Linked DNA regions of Homo sapiens. The protein of the gene in region 2 interacts with the protein of the main gene of each other region in a pairwise test. Each region holds a gene or a part of one and is shown on either strand. Other genes may lie near its edges. The genes, in order: RNF125 and BHLHA9.

The links.
Region 1: the proteins of BHLHA9 (region 2) and RNF125 interact in a two-hybrid assay, tested with the Homo sapiens proteins (one large-scale study listed by BioGRID).

The regions. Positions count from the first base shown.
Region 1 is NC_000018.10:32,035,562-32,039,372, forward strand, and holds part of RNF125 (E3 ubiquitin-protein ligase RNF125), read left to right. Parts: intron 1-1,554; coding exon 1,555-1,708; intron 1,709-3,811. UniProt on the Homo sapiens protein: E3 ubiquitin-protein ligase that mediates ubiquitination and subsequent proteasomal degradation of target proteins, such as RIGI, MAVS/IPS1, IFIH1/MDA5, JAK1 and p53/TP53.
Region 2 is NC_000017.11:1,269,037-1,272,606, reverse strand, and holds BHLHA9 (class A basic helix-loop-helix protein 9), read right to left. Parts: upstream 2,164-3,570; 5' UTR 2,044-2,163; coding exon 1,336-2,043; 3' UTR 792-1,335; downstream 1-791. UniProt on the Homo sapiens protein: Transcription factor, which play a role in limb development. Is an essential player in the regulatory network governing transcription of genes implicated in limb morphogenesis.

The DNA.
Region 1 (3,811 bases), on a different chromosome or scaffold from region 2:
GACTTCACAAAATTAGAATGGACAATCTCAACTATATACAACAATATAATGAATCTTTTGACCATAATATTGAGCTAAAGAAGACCAAGAATACATACCAGAGGGTTCCATTTATAGGAAGTACAGAAACAGGCAAAACTGATCTTTGTTATTAGAAGTCAATGATTAGCACCACCAAGGATGGTAAGCAGGGATGAGAAAGCTGCAGTCTATAGGCTGGTACAATGTTTGAAAAGTATAATTTTCATATGTTAAAATACATTTTAAAAAGTCAGTGATTACTTTGGAGGGGATAGAATTGTGTCTGGAGGCCGGGCACAGTGGCTCACGCCTGTAATCCCAGCACTTTGGGAGGCTGAGGCAGGTGGATCACCTGAGGTCAGGAGTTCGAGACCAGCCTGACCAACATGGTGAAACCCTGTCTCTACTAAAAACACAAAAAATTGGCCAGGCGTGGTGGTGGGTGCCAGTAATCCCAGCTACTTGGGAGGCTGAGTCAGGAGAATTGCTTGAACCCAGGAGGTGGAGGCTGCAGTGAGCTGAGATCGTGTCATTGCACTCCAGCCTGGGTGACAAGAGCAAGACTCCATCTCAAAAAAAAAAAAAAAAGAGAAGGAAACAAGAGGGGAAATTTTAGGGGCTGGCCACGCTGTTTTTGTTATAGGTACTGGTTATATGGATGTGTTCAGTTTTGAAATTTCATTCAACTATATGCTTATAAGAACTTTCCAGTATGTACAGTATACTTAAAATTTAAAAAGCCTACCTTTGGACATGTATTAATACTCCCAAATAGATATTATGTGCTGAGTAGTTTAAGAGGCATCAGGTCATGCTCATGTGTATAAATTACCCAAATGCTCATTTTTATTTCTATGTTTATGGAGTCTTCAACAACTCCTATAAATAGGTCAGAATTTTCTGGAAATGTTGATTATGTTAAGATTTCATAATGAGCACCTTTAAATAAACCAGAGAACATATTTCTTGACCAGAAAGGAAGGAAGGAAGGAAGGAAGGAAAGGAAGGAAGGAAGAAGGGAGGGAGGGAAGGAGGGAGGGGAGAGGGGAGGGAGGGAGGGGAGAGGGGAGGGGAGGGAGGAAGGGAGGGAAGGAGAAAATGGTTTTATAGGGAATTATAATGTGTCTGGTATTTTTACTTCCTTGACTTCCTGCTATTTTCTTATGTGACACACAAAACCCCACAGAAGAAAGACATATTTTCTCAAGAAATTTGAGGTAAAATCCAATTTAGACATTCTTTAAAGTATCGTTTAAACTTAGCCTATAGGAAAGCTATTTCACCCACTTTGAATTCTTACTTTTCTTGAAATGTGTGAAAGTGCATGTGGTAAGAATGTGTGATTCTAAAGAAGTCTTGCTGGGAAGGTAAGCAATTCTCGGGAAGTGCAGGGTGCAAGTGGACCTGTAATTTGGTAGTATGGCTCATGGGGTACGAGGTGTCATTAAATTACAGTTTACACAAATGAATACATGGTGGTGGCTCCTTATAGCTTTCAAGGAAAGTGATGTATTTTTGGTCTGTTTGGGGTAGATTCTGCCGTTCCTGTATTGCTACCAGTCTAAAGAACAACAAGTGGACCTGTCCTTATTGCCGGGCATATCTTCCTTCAGAAGGAGTTCCAGCAACTGATGTAGCCAAAAGAATGAAATCAGAGTATAAGAACTGCGCTGAGTGTGACACCCTGGTATGTATGTGACCCCACCTATTTTCATGGTTACCAGCTTAAGTCCCTGCGAAAGTTATCATTTCACCTCTGCTTCTGACCCCATGGTACGCACCTTTTTTTTTTTTTTTTTTTTTTTTTGAGACAGGTTCTCGCTCTTTCACCCAGGTTGGAGTGCAGTGGTGCGATCTCGGCTTACTGCAACCTCCGCCTCCCAGGTTCAAGTGATTCTCCTGCCCGCAGCTTCTCGAGTAGCTGGGTCTACAGGCACCTGCCATCACGCCTGGCTAATTTTTTGTATTTTTAGTAGAGACACGGTTTCACTATGTTAGCCAGGATGGTCTCAATCTCCTGACCTCATTACCCGCCTGCCTCGGCCTCCCAAAGTGCTGGTGAGATGTGAGGCCAGCTGGACTTCCCGGGTAGAGTGGGGACTTGGGAAACCTTCCTGTCTTACAAGAGGATTGTAAAACACACCAATTAGCGCTCTGTAAAATGCACCAATCAGTGCTCTGTAAAACGCATCAATCAGTGCTCTGTAAAGTGCACCAATCAGCACTCTGTAAAACGCACCAATCAGCAGGATTCTGAAAGTAGCCAATCGCAGGGAGGATTGGAAAAACTGCACTCTGATAGGACAGAAACGGAACATGGGCGGGGACGATAAGGGAATAAAAGCTGGCCACCCCAGCTAGCAGTGACAACCGGCTTGGGTCCCCTTCCATGTTGTGGGAGCTTTGTCCTTTTGCTCTTCACAAGAAACCTTGCTACCACTCACTCTTTGGGTCCGTGCCATTTTTTTTTTTTTTTTTTTTTTTGAGACAGAGTCTTGCTCTGTCGCCCAGGCTGCAGTGTAGTGGCGCCATCTCGGCCCACTGCAAGCTCCGCCTCTCAGGTTCAAGTGATTCTAATGCCTCAGCTTCCCGAGTAGCTGGGACTACAGGCATGTGCCACAATGTCTGGCTAATTTTTTGTCTTTTTAGTAGAGAGAGGGTTTTGCTATGTTGGCCAGGCTGTTCTCAAACTCCTGGCTTCAAGTGATCTGCCCACCTTGGCCTCCAAAGTGCTGGGATTACAGGCGTGAGCCATCTCACCCAGCCTCCAATTTCATATATGTACATATATCATCTGCAGAAAACCCTGAACTTCTACCATCACCCGTAATTTGTCAAACAAATGCTTTCATTGACCACCTCCATTTTCCCTTCTTCCCATTACTCCAGTGATCCTCTATGATATGTCCTCCAGTTCTGCTACTCTGTTGCAGACCACTAATGAATAGCTTTATTATCAAACCCAGTGACATATTTCCACCTGTATTGATCTGGACTTTGCAGTATTTGTCTCTATCAAGCACACCTTGCCTGTTGCAGTTTTCAACTTGGGTACTATATCAGCTTCCCCAGATCATGTGAGGTCTTGAAGGTTATGTAGAAGATTCTAGATTTTATCTTAAATGCAATAGTAAGCCAGAGAAAGAGAGTAAGTTTTGGAGTGCCAAGATCGGGCTTATATCTTTATTTTTATTTTTATTTGAGACAGAGTCGCACTCTGTTGCCCAGGCTGGTGTGCAGTGGTGCGATCTCAGCTCACTGCAGCCTCCACCTTCTGGGTTTAAGCGATTTTCATGCCTCAGCCTCCCGAGTAGCTGGGATTACAGGGGCCCAACACCACGCCTGTCTAACTTTTGTATTTTCAGTAGAGACACAGTTTCACCATGTTGGCCAGTCTGGTCTTGAACTCCTGACCTCAGGCGATCTGCCCGCCTCGGACTCCCAAAGTGCTGGGATTACAGGCATGAGCCACCATGCCCAGCCCAGGATTGTATCTTTAAGATATCACTCTAACATACACATAGAAAATGGTTTGGAGGCCAGGCGCAGTGGCTCATGCCTGTAATCCCAGCACTTTGGGAGCCCGAGGCGGGAGGATTGCTTGAGCTCAGGAGTTCAAGACCAACCTGGGAAGAGACCTTGTCTCTACTAAAAATCAAAAAAATTAGCTGGGGCATAGTGGTATACGCCTGTAGTCCTAGATACTCCAGAGGCTGAGTAGGAAGAGCGCTTGAGCCCAGGAGATCAAGGCTGCAGTAAACTATGATCGTGCCACTGCACTCCAGCTTGG
Region 2 (3,570 bases):
TACGCCTAATGGCGTTTCTCTAGCTTCTGTGGGATCCGCACTCTGAGCTAGCTGTGGGGAACCCTTCCCTCTCCTGTTGGCAAGAGCCCAGCGCTCCCCCAGCACCTCTGGGCTCTGGCCCAGCAGGCAGCCCTTGCAATATTAGACCCTTACCCTGAGCCGGGCCAGACACCAGCTCATCTCAGATGCAGGGCAGCTCTCTGGACAAAACTCTCGGGGCAGCTGGCTGTGTCTCTCACTAGCTCAGCAGGCTTGGCCTGAGGCCCCTCTGCCCTCACTCAACCCCCTCCCCAGAATCCTTCCTGGGTTCCAAGTCGGCCCCTCATTATGGGGGCCCTGGCCCACGGTTCCCTGGGAGCTCTTCCTGCCTGTCGCTCGGGGTACATGCACGCAGGACTTACCGGCCCCCAATCCTAGCCCTGCCCTTGGCCTCCTTCCCTGAGACCTGGCCAGAGTCCCCCTTCACTGTGGCTGCTTCCAGGCAGCTCTGCAGGGAGGTCCAGAGACGGGGCTGACCCCATCCTTAGACTCCCAGGCCCCGTGACCCCTCTCCTGATATCCTCTTCCACCCCAGGGGACTCAGGGAGGAGGGGTCTCTGGATGTCTCTTTCCTCCCCTTGGGCTCCCACAGTGCTCAGCCACACCTGGGGTCTTGCCATGAATGAGTTCCCCCAGGCGCCTACCTGTGGGCCTTAGGCCCCGCCCAGCATTCCAAGGAGAGCCCCCAGCCCTCAGGCGTTCCTGCCACCCTGGGCCACGGGGCCCACTGGAGTCGTGGTATCGGAGAGAAATGAGTTTTTCCTTTTATTTGGCTGCTGCCCCTGCCTGCCTCTCCCGGATCCTGCCTCTCCCGGATCAGGCTTGGGCAGCAGCGCAGGCAGGGAAGGGGACTCCGCACTCATGTGCCCACGAGACCACAGCAGGCCCCACCCGCATTCCCACGCTCCCACACCTCCTGCCTCAAAGCCCTCACTCTCCTAAAAGCATCGAGAACACACAGGGCTCGGAGGCGCAGGAGTGCGAAGGCGGCATTCCAAGACGAGTTCGAGTCCAAGATGAGTTCAGGATCCTGAGCCTTTCTGGCAACTGCCTCCCTAGGCTGGGATGTGGGGGCGCAGCCCCAGGCCCCGGAGCTCCTTCTCTCTGCCCCAGGCTGGGATGTGGGGGCGCAACCCCGGGTCCCGGAGCTCCTTCTCTCTGGCGAGCTCCTTCTCTTCCACGCCAGGTCTCAGCCGGTCCAGTTCTGCTCTGTCCAAGACGCCTTTGCAGTCCCGGGTTTTATAGTCCAGCTGCCAGCCCGGCCTCCCTGCAGCCCAGCCGGTGCCTCGAGGCCGGTCAGGAGCGCGGATGGCCCATCCCGGGGGCGGATCGCAGGTAGCCCCGCGGCCAGGGAGGCGGCCCGGCAGAGGAAGCCCCCGGACAGCGGCGCCAGCTTCCCCCGGAGGCCTGTGCTAGGCCCGGCCCCTCGGCCACCGCACTGGGCCGTGCCAGGGGCGCGTGCGGGGGGCACGAGGCGCAGCGGGGCGCGGACGGCACCGAGGGGCGGGCGGCGTCTGGGCGCGCGAGGCTGGGCCCTGCAGGCGGCGGGGGGCTGGCGCCTGTGTCCCCGGTGTCCCCGCGCGCGGCCGGGCCGTGGCACTCCAGGTGTCCGCAGGGCCCGCGGGGCGCGGGGCTGGCGCGCAGGACCAGGGAGAGCGCGGCGATGCGGTGGATGGCCCTGCGCAGCGTGGCGATCTTGGAGAGCCTCTTGCCGCCCAGGTCGTGCCGCAGCGCCCGGCGCAGCGCGTTGAAGGCCTCGTTGTAGTCTAGGATGCGCTTGCGCTCCCGCACGTTGGCGGCCATGCGCCGCGCCTTGGACCGCACCGGCCGCGCGCGCCTCCTGCCCGCCGGCTCCTCCGCCTCGCCCCGGCTGCAGGAAGCGCCGTTCGCCCCCAGCACCCCCGAATCGCCCCCGGGCTCGGGGCAGGGGCCCCCCAAGTCCTCCGCAGAGTCCTCGGCCCCCTTCCGCGCCGTGAGGCCTAGTCCTGGCGCGCCCCGCAGCATGGCCTTCCCGGGCACTCGCCCTCTGCCCCAGCCCCGGCCCTCTGCCCTCTGCCCTCTGCCCACTGCCTTGGCCCGGCTCGCGACGCGGACGGTCCCCGGCTCCTGGGGCTGGACACTCCCGAGACAGGCCCCTTCCAGCTGGGCTTTATGGCACCACGCGGCGCCCCGCCCTCCCGTCCATCCATCTCCCTCCTCCTGCTTTATTATCGGCCTCCAGGTAGGTCGGCGGGGGAGGAACCGAGGGGAAGAAGGAAAGCAAGGAGGGAAGCTTGCAGGTTCTTGTAAGCGGGGACCAGACGGGCAGCCCGGCCACGCTGCCCCGGGGACCTTGCCCTGCCTAGCTCTGGGGCCGCTGTGGGGTGTCTGGGTTCCACATTCTTCCTCCCCATTCCCAGATAAGGTGCTAAGTTTGGCTTCTAGCAGGAGAGCTGATAGGAATAAAAAGAGGCAGAGGGCCGGGCACTGGGGCTCACGCCTGTCATCCCAGCAGTTTGGGAGGCCGAGGCGGGCGGATCACTTGAGTTCAGGAGTTCGAGACCAGCCTGGCCAACAGAGTATATAAAACCCCGTCTACTAAAAACACAAAAATTAGCCGGGCGTGGTGGCAGGCGCCTGTAATCCCAGTTACTCGGGAGGCTGAGGCAGGAGAATGGCTTGAGCCCAGGAGCTGGAGGTTGCAGTGAGCCGAGATCGCACCACTGCACTCTAGCCTGGGAGACAGAACGAGACTCCGTCTCAGAAAAACAACAACAAAAACAACAACAAAACCTTGAAAGTTCTTGTCAAGTCCCGTGGGCAACCACAGAGATGTCACTGAGGAAAAGCATGAGTGTCCCGGCAGGACTCATATGGGAGGCGCAGGGCCCTGCAGGTAAAGCTGACCCAGAGCTTCCGGCTTTTTCAGCTATGGAGGGCGGCTGGCTGCAATTGGGGTTCGGGTTTTGGTTGGGCCTGACTCTCCCTCCACTGCCCTTTGACTCCCCTTCTGCAGGCAGAGCTGGGATGAGTCAGCAGCAGAGGGTGACGGGGAAGATCCCTTTGCAGCCCTGGGTCCACATCAGGGGCATCTTTGGGGTCCAGAGCCCTCGGGCAGCCCCATCTTGTGACACAGCCCTGCCAGGTTATGAACTCAATGAGCAGCCTCTGTCCTCTTCCCCCAGGGATTTGCATTTGAAAGAGGGTCTCAGAAAAAAGATGATGTTTATTCCCAAAGAAAGACCCCCAGTAGAATTTCCGGCATCCACAGCTGAGTTATTTGGAGCGCCTGAAGGCCACTCATTCCCAGTCACAATCCAAATGCCTCTAAGATGCCAAGGCCTATGGCATTGGAATGGGTGTGTGGTTCACATCCATCTCGCCAAAAGAGCATTGCCAATAACCCCATTATTTCAAACTGTGAATTTCTCCATAAAAGAAAATAATAAGGCATTAGGAAGCAGAGTGTATGTATTTACTTCTGTGATTGTCTGCCTTGCCCACTAGGATGAAAGCATCCTAAGGACATCTGTATTTCCCAGGTTCTATGTC